3 linked regions of the Homo sapiens genome follow. The protein of the gene in region 1 interacts with the protein of each later gene in a biochemical or structural test. Each region holds a gene or a part of one and is shown on either strand. Other genes may lie near its edges.

The links. Proteins that work in one complex are often made in the same cells at the same time.
Region 2: the proteins of CRHR1 (region 1) and DLG1 form a complex in vitro, tested with the Homo sapiens proteins (3 studies listed by BioGRID and IntAct, with this or other methods).
Region 3: the proteins of CRHR1 (region 1) and DLG4 form a complex in vitro, tested with the Homo sapiens proteins (2 studies listed by BioGRID and IntAct, with this or other methods).

Annotation. Positions count from the first base shown.
Region 1 is NC_000017.11:45,786,406-45,795,046, reverse strand, and holds part of CRHR1 (corticotropin-releasing factor receptor 1 isoform 2 precursor), read right to left. Parts: intron 1-8,641.
Region 2 is NC_000003.12:197,287,793-197,295,612, forward strand, and holds part of DLG1 (disks large homolog 1), read right to left. Parts: intron 6,157-7,820; exon of another isoform or gene 6,086-6,156; intron 1-6,085. UniProt on the Homo sapiens protein: Essential multidomain scaffolding protein required for normal development. Recruits channels, receptors and signaling molecules to discrete plasma membrane domains in polarized cells.
Region 3 is NC_000017.11:7,185,867-7,193,627, reverse strand, and holds the end of DLG4 (disks large homolog 4), read left to right. Parts: intron 1-43; coding exon 44-145; intron 146-510; coding exon 511-683; intron 684-1,625; coding exon 1,626-1,735; intron 1,736-2,269; coding exon 2,270-2,361; intron 2,362-2,813; coding exon 2,814-2,920; 3' UTR 2,921-6,441; downstream 6,442-7,761. UniProt on the Homo sapiens protein: Postsynaptic scaffolding protein that plays a critical role in synaptogenesis and synaptic plasticity by providing a platform for the postsynaptic clustering of crucial synaptic proteins.

The DNA of each region.
Region 1 (8,641 bases):
CTGCAGGGGGTGCACAGGAGATGCAGGAAGGTCTGCCTGCTGATGCAGCCAAAGTTGAGGAATGAGGCAGCCCAGAAAGAGCTTGAACAGCAGCCTCTTCCCAGAGTCAGCGAGCTGAGCTCACCCAGCTGAGGCTCCACCAGAGCCTCTCCAGGGCCGGCACCTCAGAGGCAGGAGGCAGAGCCGGGTCCTGGGCCCTGGGCCCTGGAGAAGTGGGATTCCTTTACCTTGGATGAGTGCGGGGACAAGGGGTAGAACAGCATGGGGCTAAGTCCTGTGAGCTTTGGGGAACCCACACAGAGCAAGGCTGCCCTTGCCCCACTAGGGGCTGCGACCACTGATCATGGGTCCTCAGCTCACCTTGTCACCAAGTGCAGATTGATGAGTGTGACAAGGAGGGGGAAGGGGCCTGCTCAGAACCCGCCACTGGGTAAGGGGTCTGAGTAAACCAAAGAGTTTCCTCCTCCTGGACAAGGGTTCTTCCTTCTTCCGTCGCCCAGCCTTGGCTGCCAGAAAGAGCCACTACATCACTCACATCCATGCAATGGAGACACACAAGTGCAAGAAGCATGGCAGGAGGGGCAGGCTGTGTGAAGGGTGAACCAGAGATCTGGGCCAGGCAGTGAATTCTGGCCCCAAAGGAGGGCTTTAGGCCCGTGCTATTCAAAGGGTGGTGAGGACTGGTCCGACTGGTCAAGTTTGCCAACCTACCAACAATTGGTTCCTGGTCTACAACTTGAGAAGTACAAAACTGGAGAGTAAGCATTTCATGTGAATCCATCCCTGCGGTGACATCCGAGCATGCAGTCAAGACTCATCTCGTCAAACAGGGTCTAGACCAATTCAGATGCTGTCAGACTTGCCAGGTGAATCACGTGGTGCAGGCTACACAGCAGGACCACACGCCAGTTGGCCATGGATTGGAAAAATCCATGTGGTCCTTCCCCACAGCTGGTTTGAGAGCCCTGCTTTGGCTGGAGGACAGAGTGTGATGCCTGGCTCACCAGGGAAGGCCTCATGGAGGAGGCGGGTCTTGAGTGATAGTTGGGCTTAGTTCTGAGGGGAGTCCTGGGGTGGGACTCCCACCCATGAAAACAGCAGGTCTCACTGGCCTTTGGTGGGAGCAGGCCCCTTGCAGCAGCACAGGCATTTCCTCTTTCATTCTGCATTGTGGTCGGTCCAGTAAAGAGGACACAAGGGTCCAGAGAGGTCATGTGATTTGCCTAAGGTCACCCATCCAAGAAGTGGCTGAGTCAGCTCCAACCCCAGGTCTCCTGCCCTGTCAGCTTTAGGGACAGTGGTCCTTCCTCCAGGGTGCATGTGAGCCCCACCACTCCTAGGCCCCCCTGCCCTGCATTTCACAGCCTTGCAGCAGCTTCCACAGTCAGGCCATGAGGCCCCAGCCATCAGGAGAGAAAAGACGCCCCAGGCTGCACCCCCACACCGACTCACAGGGAGCTGGAGGGGTGGGATGCCAACGGACGGGATCTCACGAAGGTACCAGGAATGCCAGTGCTCTTGGCGCCCCTGCCTTGCCTGGCTACTCCTGCCTCATGACCAGCAGAACCAGGACAGCACCAGGGAGGGAACCCCAGGATGCCACCTAGGCCGCCTCCCCAGTCCCCATTTGGAGGCTAGAGTGCCCTGACCCTGCTCTCTGGAGGCCCCAGCTTCTGAGACCTTCTTGCCCCTTTGTTTCTAAGCCCAGGGCCACAATTCCCTCTAGCAACATCTCCCACCATCCCTGTCCAGAACCGCTCATGAAGCAACATGCTGCCCTTGCGTGCACGTGGACAACGCCCCCAGTGCTATGGGGACCGGAGGCGGAACACAGGGCAGTGCTGGAATCTTTTAATGTTACTAAGCCGCGCTGCCGCGTAGCCCTTGATAAGCCGTTGAGTCACAAATCCACACGCGGAGGCAGAGAGGGACCTATCTGTCTGGCTTGCCACTTGTGTCTTCTGTCGCCATAGCACTTCCACACTCAGACAGACGTTCATTGGGGAGTGGGAGCAGGGAGAGACCCTCCATTTAGTTCAGCATCTACTGTGCACCTACTGTGTGCACAGTTCTGGACTAAGTTCTGGGCACACAGAGGTTTTGTTATTTTTTTGTTTTGTTTTGTTTTGTAAGGGAATCTTTCTGGTCTAGGCAGAGCTCATAGTCTACGGTGGGAACAAGGGCTCAGGTTAGATGTGGGTCACCAGGGGTCCATGTGGAATCTGGTTAGTAGGTGTTTTTGAGCCCCCTGTGGGGGGATACATCAAAGAGCTGTAAGACCCCATGTTGTGGGACAGCCCAGGATCCACGATGAGCTAGAGGCTCACACCAGGGGACGGGATGAGGTGAGAACAAAGGAACAACCAGTGAGAGACAGATTTAGACTGGAGGGCTTCCTGGAGGAGGAGGTGGGGCCAGTTCAGGAAGACTTTGGTGGACATGACAGATGAAGATTGGCACAGAAAGACTTGGGGGCAGAAGCTCCTGTAAGAGAAGTGTCATATATGTATATTCTGCTGGGTAGGGGTTGGCAGGGGAGGAAGGAGAACAGTGCGACTCAGGCAGAGGGCCAGGAGTGAGGAGCAAGAGATTAGGGGAGCATCAGGTTCTTTCCCCTCTAGAAGGGGATGGGAGGACTCAATGGGGTCACTTGTGTGGGCCTTAGTGCAACAGCAGCTCAGTAAATGGCGCACCTGGCCAGTAAACAGTGTACCTGCTTAAAAGAACCTGGGAGGCGTAGGCAAGGGACAGGAGCAGAGTTGGCAGAAAGAGGAAGGGGAAGGGCGTGGCTTAGACCAAGACCAAGCCCAGGACGCAAGGACCAGCCTCCCTCCAAGGACCAGCCTTGCCCTACCCGTCTGGGAAGATGAAGGAGTGGCTGAGTCTCTCGGGCTCCCAGCCAGGCACGGGCAGCTGAGGGATGCCGGGGAGGCTGTCTAACCTGCTAGTCACTCACCCAGCTAAGCCCGTGGTCCCCAGGTGCCCAGCTGCTCCTCTGGAAGTCAGCCTCTAACCCTGGCCTTGAGGTGGCATTGCACACCTGCCGTACAGGTCTGGCTATGCTCAGAGGAGAGGTGGTGACCACACAGTGGCTTCTGAGGGAGGTGGCAGGTGCGGGTGTTACAAACACTGCAAAGTAGCTCACTCGCCAGGGTACCAGCGTGTGTGTGTGTGTGTGTGTGTGTGTGTGTGTGAGAGAGAGAGAGAGAGAGAAAGAGAGAGAGAGAAAAAAATGCCCACTGAGAAACACACAGGCCCACAGAGGCAACAGATCCTGTCCCTTCTGCACCCTGCTTCTGGGGAGGAGGAGCAGCCCTGGGGGTGGTGGAAGGGATCATGGCGGGAGCTCATCTGGGGCATCTCTGCGCCGAAGGCTCTCCTAACAGCTGAGGACGGCTTCGGGCACCCAGGCACCAGGATAGGGATGGGTGGAGGAATTCTTGTGAGAAACAGAGAGGAAGTTTCCAGGAGATGCCACCGCTGGCCTCAGAACCCGGGCATAGGCTCTCTTGGATGCTAGGGAGAAAGTTAAAAGCAAGAATGACCAAGGCAGGCAGGCAGGTCTTTTTCTTCTCCCTCCCCTTTTGCTTCTCTCACTGTCTGTCTGTCTCCGCATCTTCCGTAAGAGTGAAATCATCCACCCTGAGCGAGCCCTTGGGCACCCTGCCAGGCCCGTGCTCTGAGTGCAGTTGGGTCCCCAGTGCAGGGGGCCTGGACCTGTAAGGACTGTGCCTCAGATGGCCCTGGACTCTCCTAAAGCCCTTTCCCCAGGGTAAAACCCCGCCTGGACCCGGTTTGCTTTTCCAGCCCACCCAGCCCAGCCCCTTGTCCCCCAGCCACACTCCTTTTCCCTGTCTCTGTGCACAGGCTCCCCACCCAGCCTGGTACCTCTGGCCTCTGCTGAGCTAGGAAGGGCTTTCTAGAAATGAGCCCTTCACACACCTTGCCAAAGAGGCTGGGAAAACAGGGAGGGAGAGGTGGATGGATCACAGAGGGAGGGCACTCCCCACTGGAAATGGCAATGCTGCGGCCATCACTTGTCCCAGCCTTTCACCCTGGGCAGGTGCCTTTCAGCTCTGTGGGCTTTGGTACTGACCAGGGATGATGACCAATATATTGTCCCAATTCTCCTAAAGCCCCTGACATCCCAGCACTCAAAGGTTCAACTAAGATTCTCACTGTGCTTCCTGATAGCCCCCACTACCTCTTAAAACTCCAGTGGGTAGACTCTAAAGTATAGCGGTCAGTCTAGAACAAGCCCTGCCTCCCTGGTTCTGCAGCCACGAAGTGACTGGACCAGTCTAGCCAGTTTTTCTGGGCTCTGACCTAGGCGCACTGGCTCCCAACCAGACTGGCTGGGGCTTGGAAACCAGCTGACATGCGGAGGGGGGCAGATGCACACCCCACAAATCCCATCTCAAAGCACCTCGCTGAGGCTTCTCTCTGGGCCCAACAGTGCCAGGCGGGTGAGATGGACAAATTGCCTGTGCTTATAGGGCAGAAAGAACAGCCGCAAACATCTTCATTTGTCCCAGAAACAGTTTTATGGCTGCTGGGTGGACAGTTGCCAAAGAACATGTTTGGCTAAAGCATTTGAATCCGCAGTTCTACGTGAAGGGGAACCCGTCTTCCAAAGCCAGATTCTGACATGCCTGTTTCATGAAGTCTGCCTCCCTCCCTTCCTGCCATCCATTCAATTTTGTGGAAGCGGATACCACATACTCAGAAAACAAGTGATTAAGAATCTGTTGTCTAATAGAATCCAGCTAGTTATTTTCAAAATGATTGTTTGCATCAGTGAGTGAATCATTTCGTATTATCCTCCCTACATATCTACTTTTACTGTCAGGTTTTTCCATATCCCAGATGTTCAGGTCTGTCTATGACCTTCAAGCTCAGCTGATGGCTGGTAGCTGATCCCTTTTCCCCAGGGACTGTGAAAAGTGCTCTGACGCAGGAAGAGATTCTATACGCCAAATACCCTTCCTCTACCCCCATCCCCTCACCACTTCTCCTTTTGATGGCCTTTCTTAGACTGAGGAAGTTGGTAAGATTTATTAAGTGACTACTATAGCTAATATTTATTATGCACTTACTGTGTGCCAGACACTGTGCAACTGTGCATAATTTCACACCTGGCATCTCATGGTCATTATGATTATGCCATAAAGCAGGTATTATTTCCCCCGCTTTAGACAGATGAAGAGGTGACTTGCCCACAGCTTCAGGGCAGAGTAAGGATTCAAGCCCACATTTGCTTCATCTGCTGTTCCCACCCATACAAGAAGATGTTGACTGCCACACTGGGTGGGGTAAGGGATGGCTGGCCTAGAGCAACAAGTCCAAAGACAAGCATTTTAAAAGGATGAAGGCTGGGCACTGTGGCTTACGCCTGTAACCCTACACTTTGGGAGGCTGAGGTGGGAGGATCGCTTGAGCCCAGGAGTTTGAGAATTCGAGACCAGCCTGGGCAATACGGCAAGACCGTTTCTACAAAAAAATTTAAAATTAGCTAGGTGTGGTGATGCACACCTATAGTCCCAGCTACTTGGGAGGCTGAGGTGGGAGGATCACTTGAGCCCACAAGGTTGACGCTGCAGTGAGCTGTGTTCACACCACTGCACTCCAGCCTGGGCAACAGAGTGAGACCCTGTCTCCAAAAAAAAAAAAAAAATTCCTAGGGACTCTGCTGACAGGGACCTCCCTGAATTTAGGTAGACAAGAATGATTTGTAGTTAACAAATTCATTGTTTGACTATTAAAACTGCAGCTGAAATCTCGACCTGGCCTTACGTTCAAAATGGGCTCACCCTTCTTTGGTTGATACCGTGAGCAGTTAGGGTAGAATCAGAGCTGGGAGAGATCACCCTACTCCCTCTTTTCACTGAGGAAGAAACGGCCCAGATCACTGTTAGTGACCTGCCCTCCTCCAGACACGGCAAAAGCGCTGGAGTTTCACTGGCTGAGGCTCTACCCTCAAGGGATTCTCCAGATCACTGGGGTGCTGCACTGGTTGTGTGTTGTTTTCTCTTTTTTAATAACCACAGTGGGCTTAAGGGGGAGTTCTAGTCCTTTCTGCATCAGAGATGGCTTTTCTGCTAGGGTGGTTTAAGCATCTCTCAGCCTTCTGTTTCGACCTGACATCTGCATCTGGTGGGAACAGAAACGGGTTCTTTCCAATTGTACAATACCAAATGGAAGAAGCAACAATAAACTCATCCATGAAGTCGACAAACATTTGTTAAACACCTACTCTGTGCAACGGATTGTGAGGCTCAGTGCCGTGAAGGGTAAAAGATGCAAAAAATATATAATATATTGCATGTCCAAGAGCTGCTAGTTGCTGTTCCTGCATTAACTTATATCTGCTGAGAGTAGCCACCTTGCAGCTTTTTCTGAAAGCAGACTGTGCCAGGCACTGTTCCAGGCACTTTCCATGTATTAATTCCTTTTGTCCTTACCTCAACCTCCTGAGTTAGGCATTTCCCCCATTTTATAGCTGGGGACACTGAAGCCCAGAGAGAGTACTTAGGTCCAAGTACCATGTTCCAAGGTCCCTCAGCTTGAGCAGAGCTGGGAAGGGGGAGTGCTGGGAATCCAGTTCGTGGCACCCCCCTCTTTCTATGTGAGGTCATGTCCCTAAGGAGTATTTGAAAACACAGACCTTTCACAGAGACATGAGAGATAACAGAGAATCCAGTCCAATACCCCTGTTTACAGACAGATAAACTGTGGCTCAGAGAGGGAAGGTGACCTACCTGTCATCACACAGCTGATTGGAGGCAGAGCTGGGATCAGAGTCAGGTTCACTGACTCCCAGGCTGATGGTCTTTCCCCTTCAATAGCTGCTGAAATTATCAGCCCGGCACCTAACTGCTTCCTTCTAGGCCACACGGGCACTTGGGGTGGTGGCACCTTGACCCCCAAACTCCTTATGTGTGGCTGAACCTGGAGGTTGATGCTTTTGAGGAGCCAAATGTTAGAGAGGGTGAGAAATGGATTTTCCACTTGAGCTCGTCCTCACTGGCTCTGGGTGAGTGTTCAACTTTTCCATAATCTACACACTCCTCTCTATGGCTGGTCATTTCAAATCCAAGGGGCTTGGCCTGGCTTTTGGCCCCTCCCTGTCTTTGCCCCCAGTCTGTGGCCAGGCCAGCAGTCCCGCACGCCACAGCAGCCCACTGGCCCACCCTGGGCTCACTGTTTCGCGTTCCTCATGCCTCTTGCCAACGCTCCCCTCGAAAACCTGGCTCTATATCGTTTAATCAAAGAAACAACTTGGAAATGGCCCAGATATGCACCGATATAGGGATGGCAAAGTCCATTCACTCACAGGCAACATGCAGACATTGACAGTCTCCTGCAGAGCCTCGGGAGTAACGTGAAACAGACTTGGGCTGTGACACTGAGGAGAGGGCTGCCCAATGGCCACAGCTGTGCCCAGACAGGTGCTTGAGAAGGGGACCTGTGGGGGTTATTTTTTAAATGAATTATACAGTAGCCAGATTAAAAGAGTGAGGTTGCAATCATTTTCCATTCTGGTTTTCAAACTTTGCCTATTGCTGCTAAATTGGCTTATATAAGAATAACAATAGCCAGCTCCCTCCTGGGAGCTCACTCTCCTGTTAGAATCCATCCAGAGGCCTTGCCTTCTGCACCCCTCACAGACACTGGGACCCATGTTTACAGCCACACTCCATCTCCCTACGAGGAGATGCAGTGGGTGTGTGGCTGACTCCGAGGTGCTCAGGCCCCTGCCCCTCCCTGGGGATAGAGACAATGTCTTGTCTGTCTTCTCCTGACTCATGGCCACTTGTACACACATCGTCTCTCCCCACTCACACACACACTTTCACACACCCTGTCTCTCCCCATTCACACACATTTTCCCCCAGGACTCTGTAACTGTTATAGTGTGAGGCCCACAATATAGGCCCCAGAGTGGACCCTTTCCCAACACTGGCTGACTTGTTGGGGATGGAGCTGGATTTGGGATTAACCCTAAATCCCCTAGATTTGTACTCTCATGCTGACAAAACTACCTGAGCTCTCATCTGGCTGAGCTCTAGAGTGAGATTTAGGTGGCTTCGAATATTTTCTGGTAATGGCCGGGCATGGTGGCTCATGCCTGTAATCCTAGCACTTTGGGAGGCCGAGGCTGGCTGATCGCTTGAGCCCAGGAGTTTGAGACCAGCCAGGGCAATATGGGGAAACCCCATCTCTACAAAAAATACAAAGATTAGCTGGGTGTGGTGGTGCATGCCTGTGGTCCCAGCTATTCTGGAGGCTGGGGTGGGAGGATCACCAGAGCCTAGGGAGGTTGAGGCTTCAGTGAGCCATGATCACACCATTACACTCCAACCTGGGCGACAGAGTGGGACCCTGTCTTGAAAAAAAAAAAAAAAAAAAAGGATATTTTCTGGTAAAAGCAAACAAAACAAAGCCTTTTATCAGAGTGTCTGGGTTTGAATTCTGACTTCACTACTCACTGGCTGTGTGACCTTGAACCAGTTACTTAGCCTCTCTGTGTCTCAGGAATAATTCCTACTTCCTAGGGCTGTTAGGAGGACTAAATGACTTAATATTTGCAAAGCAGGTAGAATAATGCCCAGTGAATTGTACATGCTACATAAATAAAAGA
Region 2 (7,820 bases), on another chromosome or scaffold:
AAAAGATGGATAACACTCTGTATTGCTTAAGGTATGGTGAATTGGTCATTCTTCCACATACTTCCTAAAAAATAAATACAACATTCCTAAGAGTATTTAACAAATTACCTCAATAGCCTTAAAATGCACACTCCCTTTGACCAAACAATTCATTTCTAGGAGTTTGTCCTAAGAATATAGTAAAGAATTGAAACAAAAATGCATATGCAAATACAATATTTATAATTCACAAAAATTACAAACCTAAATGCTCCTAGGAAACCATTAAAAAAACTACAGAAAATCTATATAGGCCGGGTGCAGTGGCTCACACCTGTAATCCCAGCACTTTGGGAGCCTGAAGCAGGCAGATCAGGAGGTCAAGAGATCGAGACCATCCTGGCCAACATGGTGAAACCCTGTCTCTACTAAAAATGCAAAAACTAGCTAGGCGTGGTGGCGCACGCCTGTAATCCCAGCTACTCAGGAGGCTGAGGCAGGAGAATCACTTGAACCCAGGAGGCAGAGGTAGCAGTGAGCCGAGATTGCACCACTACACTCCAGCCTGGTGACAGATCAAGACTCCGTCTCAAAAAAAAAAAAAAAAAAAAGAAAAGAAAAGGAAAAAAAAAATCTATATACACAGTCACTTAAAATGGTACGAATCTGGCCAGGCACAGTGGTTCATGCATGTAATCCCAGCACTTCGAGAGGCTGAGGCGGGCGGATCACCTGAGGTCAGGAGTTCGAGACCAACCTGACCAACATGAAGAAACCCTGTCTGTATTAAAAATACAAAATTAGCCAGGCGTGGTGGCACATGCCTGTAATCCCAGCTATTCAGGAGGCTGAGGCAGGAGAATCGCTTGAACCTAGGAGGCGGAGGTTGTGGTGAGCTGAGATCAAGCCATTGCACTCCAGCCTGGGCAACAAGAGTGAAACTGTCTCAAAAAAAAAAAAAAAAAAAAAAAAATACATACATACATACATACATACATACATAAAATGGTAGAAATCTACTGACATGGAAAGACATTTGTCGATAAACTTTAGAAGATAAAAACAATATGTATAGTACAGAGAAATCATACTATTCACACTTATACAAATACAACTGCAGTATATCTCCCCTGCAAAAAAGGGCAACTCTGTCTACCCAATAAGTGACTGTCACAAATAAAAAAATGAGAAGGAAGAAGATTCTTCCTTTAGGTAGTCTGAGTTTTCATGTGCCTCTCAAAATGTGAGCTTCTTGCTATATCTCACTGTGCTGAGTGTGATTCTATAATTACGTGTTTTTAGTACAAGAAGTCAAACAAGCCAGTTGCTTCGTCTAGGGCTCAAGTGAAGAAATCATTCCTTTCCACTAGAGGAAAAAAAACAATTGTGCTGTAATTAACAAGAGCTAGTGTTAAATTTCTGAAGGCTTTTCAGGGATAATTTTAACTAGATGAGGTTTTTCACCTTACATGCTGATTTTAAGTATCAATTCTCACAAGGGAAATAACTGTTTTACTTAGAAGTTTGTTTTGCAAAATGAAGGTGGGGGGTGGCGTGTATACACGCGCATACACACACACACACACACACACACACAAATAACATTCCAGGATATTCATCCCATGGATGAAGTAGGAGGTAACCTCTGGTGTGAATATTTTCTTATGGTATTTTACATATAATAATCTGATCTCAAATGTTTTATATAGAACATGCATCATTTTTATAATAAATTTATTTTGGAGGGTTACAGGAAAGGCAACTAGAAAGCTGAAGAACACTGAAATATAACCCTACCATTTCAGAGGAAAAAAATTCTATCAGTTCATTTACTAAAAGCAAGTATGATTATTCAGACAATACCCAATTGAGTAATCAAAATTAACATCATCAGTGAAGGGCAGATGACATACTAAGATAATACCACAATAGTCAAATCTACTCAAGCACAAATACTCTTTCTTCTAAACCAATGTTCATTTAAAAAGTCATTTTTGACCCCTAGAAGAAAGAATATCCTATAAAATTTAAAAGTTTGTACTATTGTTTCACACACTAAAGAAAGGAAAGATGTCAAGCTAGTAGGCAAAAATAAATCACTTGAATACTTTAGATACTATTAGACTAAGAATCATACATGACTCACAAGCATATTCCATAAAACAAGGTGTGTACTAAAAGGAACCAGAGCTTCTCAGAGAAATGGCTGATTCCAGGGCTGGGGCAGGAGAGGTACAAGATAAACCTGGAACATCTTGTTATGCCAAAAATTAAGAAAGTGCTCCAAAAAATGATGAGGGCATCTCATAAGGACACAAGCTTGAAAGGGCCCCCACTGGATCACTCAGAGCACAAATGTCATTAAGGATGGTAATAAATGATAAGTCATTGAAAAAAAAACAGGTATCTGCAAGTTCATGAAAGACACGGGAAAAAAAGAAGGAAGGCTCTTGTTTAGAATAAAATGCAAAGTGTTAACTGGTAAACCTAGGAGTGTTACTGTTAGAAATCTTACTTTTCAACAACCATATTATAAACCGGTTCAAGAATCATCAATGGATGCTAAATATGGGTGGAAATTTTGCTAAGGAGTAGGATATGTACATGGTGTTAAAGTGTCTCCCCCACATATTGCCTATAAGCCACAAGGGGTAAAAAACAATGACTATAGGATACAGAATTCAGACAACACCCAACTAGGTAATCAAAATCAGTATCATCAACAAAGAGCAGATGACTCTGTGTACCTCTGGATGTACAGAATCCTAAGCCAGGAATACAAAACCTGAATCTAATCACAAGGAAACATCAGACAAACCCAAAATGAGAAAATTATATTAAAAAAAAGTAAGAGTGGAAGGAACTGCGTTTTTCAAAATCATCAATCTCAGCTGGGCGCAGTGGCTCACACCTGTAATCCCAGAACTTTGCTCAGGAGTTCGAGACCAGCCTGGGCAACACCTGTCTCTAGAAAAAGTTAGCCAGGCGTGGGGGCTCACACCTGTAGTCCCAGCTACTCAGGAGCCTGAGGCAGGAGGATTGCTTGAGCCTGGGAAGCAGAGGTTGCAGTAAGCCACCACTGCACTCCAGCCTGGGTGGCAGAGCAAGACCCTGTCTCCAAATAGTAAAAAAAAAAAAAAAAAAAAAAAAGTCAGTCTCACACAAGACAAAGAAAAGCTGTGGAAATGTGCCCTAAGTAAAGAGACGTGACAACTAACGGTAATATCTGGTCCAAGTCTGGATTCTGCACTGAGGAAAAATATGACCCTGCAGAGAGGAAATGGCTTAGAAGAAATATTTAGATGCCTTTACAACTCTGATTCCAAGGTTCTAAAGAGAATTCAGCCAGATTCAACATAATCAAAACACTGCTTCAGAGCAGTAGTAAGCAAACTATGAGCAAAGAACTCAATCTAATTGAATCAAAACCATCAAGTGAGAAGTTACTAAAATTCTCCATTTCAGGAAGTTTCAGCCAACGATGTGATCCATATCCTGTTTTCCTTACTCAAATCTAGCCTACAAAGTTACACACACACACACACACACACACACACACACACACACACAGTTAGCAAGAGACTAAAATGTAACATCAGTGGGACTAATATAATGCAAAAGAAATTTAAGAAATTTTGACATTTTACCACTATAGCTGGAAGATCTCAAACCCTGATTACTAAACACTGTTTTCAAAATGTGTGATTTCCATCATCATAAACATAATGCACCATTATAAATATTTTCCTTCAAAGTGACAATCATTTAAAGATTACTAACCCTAAAGATTGCTATCTGTCTTAAGCATGCTTGTCATTTAGTATTCTTTATCAGATTAAAATACTCAGTTCTGAAAAACAACGATAAAGAATATCCCAATGGTTGACGGTGAGAAGTATCTATGGATTCAGATTAGTTGAGTTCAATTTCTGGCTCCGCAATTTAGCATCTGAGGGTCCAAGGGCAAGATTGGTCATTTCTCAGTGCTTCAGTTTTCCAGTCTATAAAACAGTACAAACACCTCATACAGGTGAATGTACACCTCACAGGATTACAATGACTAAATGATATATTTGTATTAGCACATAGAAAGTGCTCAATAAATGTTGGTTATTATGTTTTACATACACTTGAAGAGGAGTCATATACTCACACTTATTAGGATGGCTATTATCAAAAAAAGAAAGGAAAAAAATTAAGTATCGGCAAGGATGTGGAGAAACTGGAAATCCTGTGTGCTGCTGGTGAGACTGTAAAATGCTGCAATCACTATGGAAAACATTATGGTGGGCCCTCAAAAAATTAAAAATGTAACTGCCGTATGATCCCACAATCCTATTTCTGGGTAAATATCCAAAAGAACTGAAAGCAGGGTCTTGAAGAAATATTTGCACACTCACATTCCTAACAGCATTATTCACAACAGCCAGGAGGAGGAAGCAACCCAACTGTCCATCAATGGATGGCTAGATAAAATGCGGTATATACATACAACGGAATATTATTCAGCCTGAAAAAGGAAGAAAATCCTGTCAACAACTACAACATGAATGAACCTTGCGGACTCTACACTGAGTGAAATAAGCCAGTCGCAAAAAGACAAATACTTCTATGAGGTTTCTAACATGATCAAATTCACTGAAACAGAAAGCAGCACGTTGGTCACAAGGGGCTGGGAAGTGAGAGGAAAGGGGAGCAGTTGTTTATTCGGTATAGGATTTCAGTTTTGCAAGACGAAAGTGTTCTGAAGATTTGTTTCACAACAATATGAATACATTTCACACTCCTGAACTGTACATTTAAAGATGGTGAAGATGGCAAAGGGGTCATACTTTTGAAACTAGTATCTACAAATAAAGATAGGGTAATGTCCTTTTATAAGGGCTAGTGAAACTATTAGATTTTAATAGAGTGGCAACAAATGAACTGGTAACTAAACTCATAAATGGACAGTATTATTACATAATCCACTTTCATTCTGAAATCTCTGCAGAAATAAAACACTGCATTAGAATAAGCTTATTTATTGCAGACAAAATATACAAATCACATGACTCAACTTACTCAAGTCTCTAAAGCCAGCCTAATCTTGGGCCCCAGTTTTTCTCATGCACAAGGAAAGCAGATGAGTTCTCTGATCCCGTAAGAAATAACTGCAGGGGTTTAGACTGGTATGAAGTCTCTATGGACTAGCAGTGTCATCTCAGATCCCACACACCTTAGAATCATGAATGAACTGAAACCACTATGGACCTGAATACCTGGGCTCTGATTATAATCAAACCATATCCCGTCTACTCAAAAAATTTTCAAACTTAAGCACAAAAAACTGGAATACAAAAGCAAGTTTTCAAATTGCTCTCACCTAAATCACAGAGTGAAATTAAGCAGACTTTATCTTCCTTTATACAAAAATAATCACCAGGTATGTTTTGGGAGTAAATTTTAAACAAATGTGCAGTTCATGGACTTTTGTTAAGATACAACTTTAAATATTTAGCTCTAAAGAAACAATACATCAGCTGAAATTCAAAATTAGTAAAAACTTTTCTGCTTTCAATAATTTTTAAATCTTTAAGCCATCCTTCAAAGATACTACCAAGTATCTATCAGCACTAGACCAATGATTTCTATATTACATTGCGAGTATCAATTATAAAATGCACTATTTCATGTGTCAGAACACAGAAACACTGTCAATTAAAAATGACATATACCAGATATTGAAATATTTAACAGTTGGTATTTTAGAACAAATATAATACAGTACGTACATGCTTGTCCCTCTGAATAATCCAAAAGTACAGGAACCTAATCTATGTATCAACTACAGGGGGGGACACCAAACCCCTAGAGACTCAAACTTTTTTAAATGCATGAAAAGTCAATATAAACTACCAGTTCAAAGAATCAATCAATAAATGATCAATGCAGACTGAAAATCCAAAGACACTTGGCACCCCAAACAGATAACTAGATAACTCACTGCGGCCTAAACAAGTGATTTCCAAATTAAGGAAGTGAAAAATCTAAGCACTCAATGACTCCAAACAGCTCAGGTGGCCAAGACCCCTGTTCTCCTTTAATCCAGTGGTCCACAGGTACCAACTCAGAAGACAGAGTGCCACTTACTGAGAGAAAAAACCTTTCAGTAAGTGGCACTCTGTCTTCTGAGTCGGATTTTTCTGCAAACACTATGGACACAATGAACTGGTTTAGCTTAGGGCAGTTTACAAGCTTAAAGTACATTTATGACACTGTTTCAAAACAATGGTAGAGTTGCAAAATACAAAGAAAATCTTATCAGACTAAACATTTTCAGACTAAGTATTAAAAGTTATTCAGGAAACACAAGAGAATGTATTTATTCCGTAGTATCAACAATTATAGCATGGAAACACACAGAACCTCTATTAAACGTTATCTATTTCAAAACTCCTAAAATCTATTACTTGTCTTACACCAAAATGTGATATAGTACCACATCCTATAGAACATTAAATATAAGTAAATTTAAATGTCAAAGTAAATTCACAACCAATGAAATTAGAAGATTCACAAATATAAACTTAGTAATTAGGAAGCTAACTCTAGGCCAGACGCGGTGGCTCACGCCTGTAATCCCAACATTTTGGGAGGCCGAGGTGGGTGGATCACGAGGTCAGGAGATCGAGACCATCCTGGCTTACACAGTGAAACCCCGTCTTTACTAAAAATACAATACAAAAAATAAAAAATTAGCCGGACGTGGTGGTGGGCACCTTTGGTCCCAGCTACTCAGGAGGCTGAGGCAGGAGAATGGCGTGAACCTGGCAGGCGGAGCTTGCAGTGAGCGGAGATCTCGCCACTGCACTCCAGCCTGGGTGACAGAGTGAGACTCTGCCTCAAAAAAAAAAAAAAAAAAAAAGAGAAGAAAGCTAACTCTATCAAAGTTCAATTGTACGTAAGAATAGACACATTCAAAACAGGCAAGGCAGAATAGGTCAAAAATGTCTCTGAACACAGCAAACCCATCCCCAATCTAGACAGAAATATAAATGTAGATTCTGTTATTTCACTAACGATTTAATTTTCTTAAGTTACAGCCATCACACAAAGAAAAGTCTGCAGTCTATCTATCTGCCTATCTATACATATATGTATATATATATCTCTATACTGTTGCGAAAAAACATACTTTTTTTGCAACAGTAACTGCACCAAATTACTAGGCTCAATGTTGATTTAGAAAACAAATAACTAAAAAATGCTTTTTGCTGTTTTTCCAGAGGAATCCAATTTGATCATCCATTCGGACCTTAAACCTCAGAAATTCAAATGTGTAAAAAATGTCCATCAATGTAAACAAAAATGGCAAAATGTGAATTTCTGGAGCTGGGTAACAGTTAAAAGGCAGTTCATTACACTGTGCTATGTATCCTTATGTTTTTAAAAGTCTATTAAAATGTTACATTTTTCAAAATTGTTCAGGTGCATCAAGTGGTCTTTACAAAAATCTTTCATTCTAAAACCGTAGAGAGCATCCATTTATCAATAATGTACCTGACAGGACACACTGACTTGAAAGTAGTCTTCAAATCACACCAACAATTATTCTATCAACAGATAGATGTAAGGCCATATCTGACTGGAAGTTACTGAAGAAATAAATGTAATATAATTAAGTATATGTCTTCTTATGTTAAAATGTTATATAGTTGATAACTAAAACAAAAAAAAAAAACTTCATTCTTAGAATTGGAAGAGACAAACTTTCTAGTTCGGTGGTTTGCAAACTTTTTGAGGTACCTGGACAAAAGAGCCAGACAAGTCACCTTGTTTTATACATAGGAGATTATACA
Region 3 (7,761 bases), about 39 Mb from region 1:
TCCCCCAACCCTGCGCTCGGCCTAAGCCAGGCTCTCTCTGCAGTGCACTATGCTCGCCCCATCATCATCCTTGGGCCCACCAAGGACCGCGCCAACGATGATCTTCTCTCCGAGTTCCCCGACAAGTTTGGATCCTGTGTTCCCCGTGAGTGCTGGGGCCTTGGATGGAGGAGAAGGTGGAAGTGGGGGTGGGGCAGGGGAGGCCCATCCCTGGGGCCATAGGCAGAGCCTCCTGGGGGATCGGTGTGTAGGGAGATACAGGGTTTCTCCGAGAAGGGGTGCTTCTCAGCCACCCTCTCATTCCATAGTACCCATGCCCAGGCCAGAGACTTGGAGGCCCTGGAGGGTGCTAGGGGAAGCGGTTCTGGCCCTCTGCAGTCTTGGTCTCCCTGGCAGCTCCCTTTCACCAAAGGACCAGCTGGGCACTATGGGGATTTGATTGAAGTAGGCAGGATTTAAGCTAGAGGGATGGTGGTTAGATCTTTGGGGGGTGGGGTGACTTCCTGGCAGATACGACACGGCCCAAGCGGGAGTATGAGATAGATGGCCGGGATTACCACTTTGTGTCGTCCCGGGAGAAAATGGAGAAGGACATTCAGGCGCACAAGTTCATTGAGGCCGGCCAGTACAACAGCCACCTCTATGGGACCAGCGTCCAGTCCGTGCGAGAGGTGGCAGAGCAGGTAGGACCTGGCGGGCACCCGGTCCTCTTCCTTCTCCCCTCTCCCCACCCCACTGCCTCCCTCCAGCTTTCTCTAACTCTCTCTCTCTCTGTCTCTTTCCCTGCTGGGTCTCCACTCCGCTCCTCCACCTCCTTCTCCTCTTGGGCAACTCTGTCTGACTGCCTGCTCTCTGCCCCTGCTCTCTCTCCCACCTCCCTCACTTCCTGACCCCAAATTCCCCACCACCATCTGGCCTCTTTCTCTCCCCACTCCCTTCTCCTTGCCCCATTTCTCCTCTCTTCCCATGGCCTTGTCTTTGGTGGCTTGGCCTTCCCCACTGGGTCCCTCCCTTTTTCCTGACTCCCCGCTGGCCCTCTCCCCTGCCTCACCCTTTTCTGGGGCCCGGCTCCCCTCTCCCACTCCTCTGCTAACTCCTTTCCTTTCCCCGCTGCTCCTCACCCTGCCCTCCCTCCCTCCCTCCACGGTTCCTTTCTCCATCTGCCTCACTCCCTCCCATCTGTCTCCTTGTTCCTTCCATCTGTCTGTCCTCTGTCCGTCCTCCCCTCCCTCCTCCCTCTATCCTACTTCCTTTCTCCTTTTTCTTGGCTTTCCTTCCCGCCTGTGTCACCTCTGCCTTGCACACCCCGCCCCACTCGCTGCTGCCCCGGCTCTGCCACCATCTCTTGGGTCCCTGCCTGCCTGGTGCTCCTCCCTTCCTCCATTCTGTCCTGTCCCTGCCCTCTCCCGTGCTCTCCATCTTCCCTTTCCTTTCCCTCTGTCTTTTACTCTGTCCATACCCGCTTCCTGCCTGACTCTCTGCCCCCGTGTTTCTTGACATCCATGTCACTCCCCTTCGGCCAACTTCCCATTCCCCACCTCTCCCCGTCCGTGTCCCTCCGGCACTGCTCTCTGTCCTTTCTCGCCACCCGCTGGCCCCCCTCCGCCCACCCTGCCTGCCCCCAGGGGAAGCACTGCATCCTCGATGTCTCGGCCAATGCCGTGCGGCGGCTGCAGGCGGCCCACCTGCACCCCATCGCCATCTTCATCCGCCCCCGCTCCCTGGAGAATGTGCTGTGAGTATGGTCCTGGGGGCCTCCCCTTTGCTCCCCCAACACCTGTGGCCCTGGGCCTCACAAGGCGTCTGCGTTCAACTCTCCCTTCAGAACCCTGGACAGCGGTTTCAGCAGCCCCTGAGGGGGATCCCTGGAACCCAGAGGATGTGGGGGAATCGGGTCTTTCCCCTCCTCTCCTGCCTTGGCTAGACAGGACTACATTTCCCAGCAGCCCCTGGGGCATACCAGCTGGGGCGAGTCAGGGCCTCTAGGGCTGTTGGGAATTGGAGTCCGAATCCCATCTCTGGGGCTGAAGGCTGGAAGGATGAAGCTCCGTAGATGTCCCTGGAGTAGCCACACCTGGCTGGGGCGGTTGCGGGTGGCAGGGGGGTGGGGGGTGGTTCTCATCTGTGGCCCCAGAGGATATTGGGAATTGTATTTTTTTTTTTGCTATGTGCTCCAAATAGAAGAATACTTAACATTCCTGGATAGAGGAGATAAAAGGCAGGGTCAGGTGGGTCCAGTCTCAGGCCTGCTCTCCCTCCCTCTTCACAGAGAGATTAACAAGCGGATCACAGAGGAGCAAGCCCGCAAAGCCTTCGACAGAGCCACCAAGCTGGAGCAGGAGTTCACAGAGTGCTTCTCAGGTGAGGCCACAGCAAGGCTGTTGCCAGCATGTAGGGTGCCCTTGCTCGGATTAGAAAGAGCTCCCCCGCCACCCCCAGTGGATGGCTTAGAAAGAGGTGCCCCTGTGGGCGCGGCATGGTGGCTCACGCCTGTAATCCCAGCACTGGCGGGCACCTGTAATCCCAGCTACTCGGTAGGCCGAGGCAGGAGAATCGCTTGAACCTGGGAGGCAGAGGTTGCAGTGAGCCGAGATCGCACCACTGCACTCCAGCCTGGCGCTAAGAGCAAAACTCAATCTCAAAAAAAAAAAAAAAAAAAAAAAAGAGGTGCCCCTGTGGGCGGGTGCAGCCCCAGGACTTATGGCTTGGAGAGTTGGAAAGAGGTGCCCCTTCCTCTGGGCTGGTGCAACCCCCTTGGCCAGGTGTCCTCTGGCCCTTCCTTGGCCTCACTCCCTGCTCCACCCCACTCCCAGCCATCGTGGAGGGTGACAGCTTTGAGGAGATCTACCACAAGGTGAAGCGTGTCATCGAGGACCTCTCAGGCCCCTACATCTGGGTTCCAGCCCGAGAGAGACTCTGATTCCTGCCCTGGCTTGGCCTGGACTCGCCCTGCCTCCATCACCTGGGCCCTTGGTCTGGACTGAATTGCCCAAGCCCTTGGCTCCCCCCGGCCTCCCTCCCACCCCTTCTTATTTATTTCCTTTCTAACTGGATCCAGCCTGTTGGAGGGGGGACACTCCTCTGCATGTATCCCCGCACCCCAGAACTGGGCTCCTGAACGCCAGGAACCTGGGGTCTGGGGGGGAGCTGGGCTCCTTGTTCCGAGCCCTTGCTCCTTAGGATCCCCGCCCCCACCTGCCCCCAATGCACACACAGACCCACCGGGGGCCACCTGCCCTCCCCCATCCTCTCCCACACACATTCCAGAAGTCAGGGCCCCCTCGAGGAGCACCCGCTGCAGGGATGCAGGGCCACAGGCCTCCGCTCTCTCCTAAGGCAGGGTCTGGGGTCACCCCTGCCCTCATCGTAATTCCCCATGTTCCTTGATTTCTCATTTATTTTTTCCACTTTTTTTCTTCTCAAAGGTGGTTTTTTGGGGGGAGAAGCAGGGGACTCCGCAGCGGGCCCCTGCCTTCCACATGCCCCCACCATTTTTCTTTGCCGGTTTGCATGAGTGGAAGGTCTAAATGTGGCTTTTTTTTTTTTTTTTCCTGGGAATTTTTTTGGGGAAAAGGGAGGGATGGGTCTAGGGAGTGGGAAATGCGGGAGGGAGGGTGGGGGGCAGGGGTCGGGGGTCGGGTGTCCGGGAGCCAGGGAAGACTGGAAATGCTGCCGCCTTCTGCAATTTATTTATTTTTTTCTTTTGAGAGAGTGAAAGGAAGAGACAGATACTTGAAACTTGGTGTGTGGCCTGGTTATTTGGGACCTGGGTGTGGAGGGAGATGGGCGCAGCAGAGTCAGATCCTTCTTCACTCCAAGCCAGAGAGGTTAGTGGCCTGGAAAATGGGCCAGGGAGGTAACTGGCAAATCAAGGAACCCGAGTTGGTGAAGACTGAGCCTGGGAAGGTCTGGAGCTCTGTCCAAAGTCATGACAGGCCAGAAAGGGGAGGCTGGAACTTGTCTGGGGCCCTGCAGACTTAGTCCAGCTCTGATCCCTGCCGGGCTGTCTCAGTCCTGTTGGGAAGCACAACAGTCCTTAAAGGAAAATAGAGAGGAAACTTCGTTCATTCATGTTCATGGAGTTGTGGACAGAGCTAGGATCTGGAAATGATTTTTTTTGTTTTTTTGTTTTTTTTTTTGAGACAGAGTCTTGCTCTGTCGCACAGGCTGGAGTGCAGTGGCTCGATCTCGGCTCACTGTGATCTCTGCCACCCTGGTTCAAGTGATTCTCCTGCCTCAGCCCCCTGAGTAGCTGGGATTACAGATTACTGCCACCATGCCTGGCTAATTTTGTATTTTTAGTAGAGATGGGGTTTCACCATGTTGGTCAGGCTGGTCTTGAACTCCTGACCTTGTTATCCACCCGCCTCAGCCTCCCAAAGTGCTGGGATTACAGGCGTGAGCCACCGCGCCTGGCCTGGAAATGATCTTTACAGAGTTCTGCTGATAAGAACTGCTGTGTGAATATACGCTAGGTTTCTTTATGCGCCCCCCCCACCCTTTTTTTTTTTTTTTTGAGACAGAGTTTCGCTCTTTCGCTCAGGCTGGAGTGCTGTGGTGCGATCTTGGCTCACTGCAACCTCTGCCTGCTGGGTTCACACGGTTCTCCTGCCTCAGCCTCTCGAATAGCTGGGATTACAGGCGCCTGCCACCACTCCTGGCTAATTTTTGTATTTTTAGTAGAGATGGGGTTTTGCTTTGTTGGCCAGGCTGGTCTCGAACTCCTGACCTCAGGTGATCCGCCCAGCTTGGCCTCCCACAGTGTTAAGATTACAGGCATGAGCCACTACGCCCAGCCTTTATGTCCTATCTCTATGGGAAAGATCTGAGGCAGCTTTGTAAATAATGAGGGTAGGAAAATAAGAATCTAAATGCCAAAGATGAAAACTGGAGAAATGTATATGAACTGTGAGGGTAAATGTGATCTCTGAGCTTCCTGATAGCCATGGCAAAAAAGGAAATTGTCAATTACCTACTTCTTTATTATAAGGGAGAAATAATTTTAGTTCTTTTAGGGAGTCATATTTTCCTGGCCCTAAGTCCTAACTGAAGCTCCTGAGATCCTGCTATGTAGAATGGTGACTCTCAGCCTTCTGCCTTCTTCATGTGTTTGGCACAGATGAACCTTTGGGGGCACCTGCTGGGGTACTATTCCTTTCTCTGATTCTCAGGTGCTCCAGTGGGTAAGGCTGAGGCAGAGGGCCCTAAGAGTTATGGTGGTTAAATCCCAAACAGTGCAAAAGGGCATTTTTTGTAGCCACTCCTGACTAAAGTTGAGAGTTTCATGCAAAAGACCAACCCAGGGGTAGTGATTCTGTGGATGGCATGGCCGTCCAAGCCTAAAGTAGTCCAAGAATAGAGGCAGAGATTGCTGAAGGGGTGTCACTTCAACCAGTAGCCACGTATTGCCCTGCAGGATTTTCTATGCAGGACCGAGTCCATCAGGATCCTGGGGATAGGGACCAGGGGTCTGCATTTCTGGAAAGCTCCCGGGTGATTTTGATGTCTCACTGGGTGGAGAAGCACTGCTTCAGAGGATTTTTTTTTTTTTTTTTTTGAGGTCGAGTTTCACTTTTGTTGCCCAAGCTGGAGTGCAATGGCGCGATCTCGGCTCACTGCAACCTCCAACTCCAGGGTTCAAGTGATTCTCCTGCCTCAGCTTCCCAAGTAGCTGGGATTACAGATGCGTGCCATAACACACAGCTATTTTTTAATATTTTTAGTAGAAACGGGGTTTCACCATGTTAGCCAAGCTGGTCTCAAACTCTTGACCTCAGGTGATCTGCCCGCCTTGGCCTCCCAAAGTGCTGGGATTACAGGCGTGAGCCACTGCACCTGGCCCTGATGTTTTTCAAATAATCCTTCTCTTAGCTTGGTTCTGTGTAATAGCAGATGGCTTGAGGCTGTGATAACGTTCTCTATCGTGAGCTGAAGGGAGAAATCTAGGAGCTGAGGAAGGTGTGTGCAGGTAATGCGTCTGCGTGTTAAACTAGAAGGGGCAGAATCACATATTTGACCTGGATGGGGTAGAATCACATAATTTTGCATGTATTATTATTATTATTATTATTATTATTATTGGAGACAGAGTTTCGCTCTTGTTGCCCAGGCTGGAGTGCAGTGGTGCGATCTCTGCTCACTGCAACCTCTGCCTTCCGGATTCAAGCTATTCTCCTGCCTCAGCCTCCCGAGTAGCTGGGATTACAGGTGCATGCCACCACGCCCAGCTAATTTTTTGTATTTAGTAGAGATGGGGATTTCACCATATTGATCAGGCTGGTCTCGAACTCCTGACCTCGGGTGATCCACCCCCCCCCCCCTCGGCCTCCCAAAGTGCTAGGATTACAGGCATGAGCCACCGCGCCTGGCCTGCATGCATTATTTTGTAAATTATAATCAGTACACGTACCTGACAACAATTCAAATAAATATAGAAATACATACTGTTTTTAAAAAGTTTCCTTCCTGTTTCCCTCCAGGCATTATTCCTCAGGGGAAGCACGGTTGCCGCTGGGGCTGTATTCTTCCAAGGCCATGGCCTGGCCGCTTGAGAAGGCAATGTAATTAATGCATTGGAGCCCTGGGCTCCCAAACAACATAGGTTCAAATCCTGGTTCCTCTTCTCCCCACACTTTTTACTTCTTTCAGTAAATACTTCCTTGGATGTTCCTTGGAACCAGGCAGTGTTCTAGATGCTGGGAAGGCAACATCCCTGTCCTTAGGGAACTTTGGGTGCATCCAGTGGAGATGACAGACTATAGGGAGTAAGTGAACACAGAGTGTTTAGACAATGATGGGTGCTACTATGAAAGAGAGTGATGGCCCTTGCTGGTTTAGACCGGGCGGTCAGGGAGGCCCCTTGCAGCATCATTTGGGTGGAGGCCTGAAGGACAACAAAGACTGGGGTGGTGAGAGTGTGCCAAGTAGGGAGACGAACAGTCTGGAAGGAATAAATTTGAAAGGTTGGAGGACAGAAGGAGGCCACTGGAGTGGAGTAGGGTGGGGGACAGAGAGAAATAGGTGTGTCAGAGAAGTCAGAGAGGCGTGGCACACAGGACTTCCCGTGGATTTTTCAGAGTGGTGTAGAAGCTGCTGGAGGGCTGTGGAGGGAACCGTGAGCCAGTTACTCTGGGTGTGAAGGGGAATACACAGCAGGGGGCAATGGAGAGCCAGCTAGGCTGTTGCTGGCGTTAGGATGAGGGACGATGGTGGAGTCACTGTCACTCTGGGGAGAGCTTAACCTCTCTAAGCCTCAGTATACCTAGCTGTAAAATGGAAATAACTACCTACCTTGGTGGATACTTGGGAGGAATAAACTGGAAAGTACACGTAAAGCCCTCAGCACAGTGCCTGACGCATGGTAGAAAATGGTAGCAATTATTGTCATTGGCCTCTTGGTCTATTTTCAGATATGCATAAGCCCAAAAGTTAAAGCCTGGAATCATTTGGAGTTTTAACAAGTTTTACCCTCAAAAAGTAGGAAAGAGGCAGGCCTGGCATGGTGGCTCACGCCTGTAATCCCAGCACTTTGGGAGGCTGAGGTGGGCAGATCACGAGGTCAGGAGTTCAAGACCAGCCTGGCCAACATGGTGAAACCCTGTCTCTACTAAAAAAACAAACAAACAAAAAAAGCTGGGGGTGGTGGCGGGCGCCTGTAATCCCAGCTACTGGGGAGGCTGAGGCAGGAGAATCCCTTGAACCCGGGAGGCGGAGTTTACAGTCAGCTGAGATTGCGCCACTGCACTCCAGCTTGGGCGACAG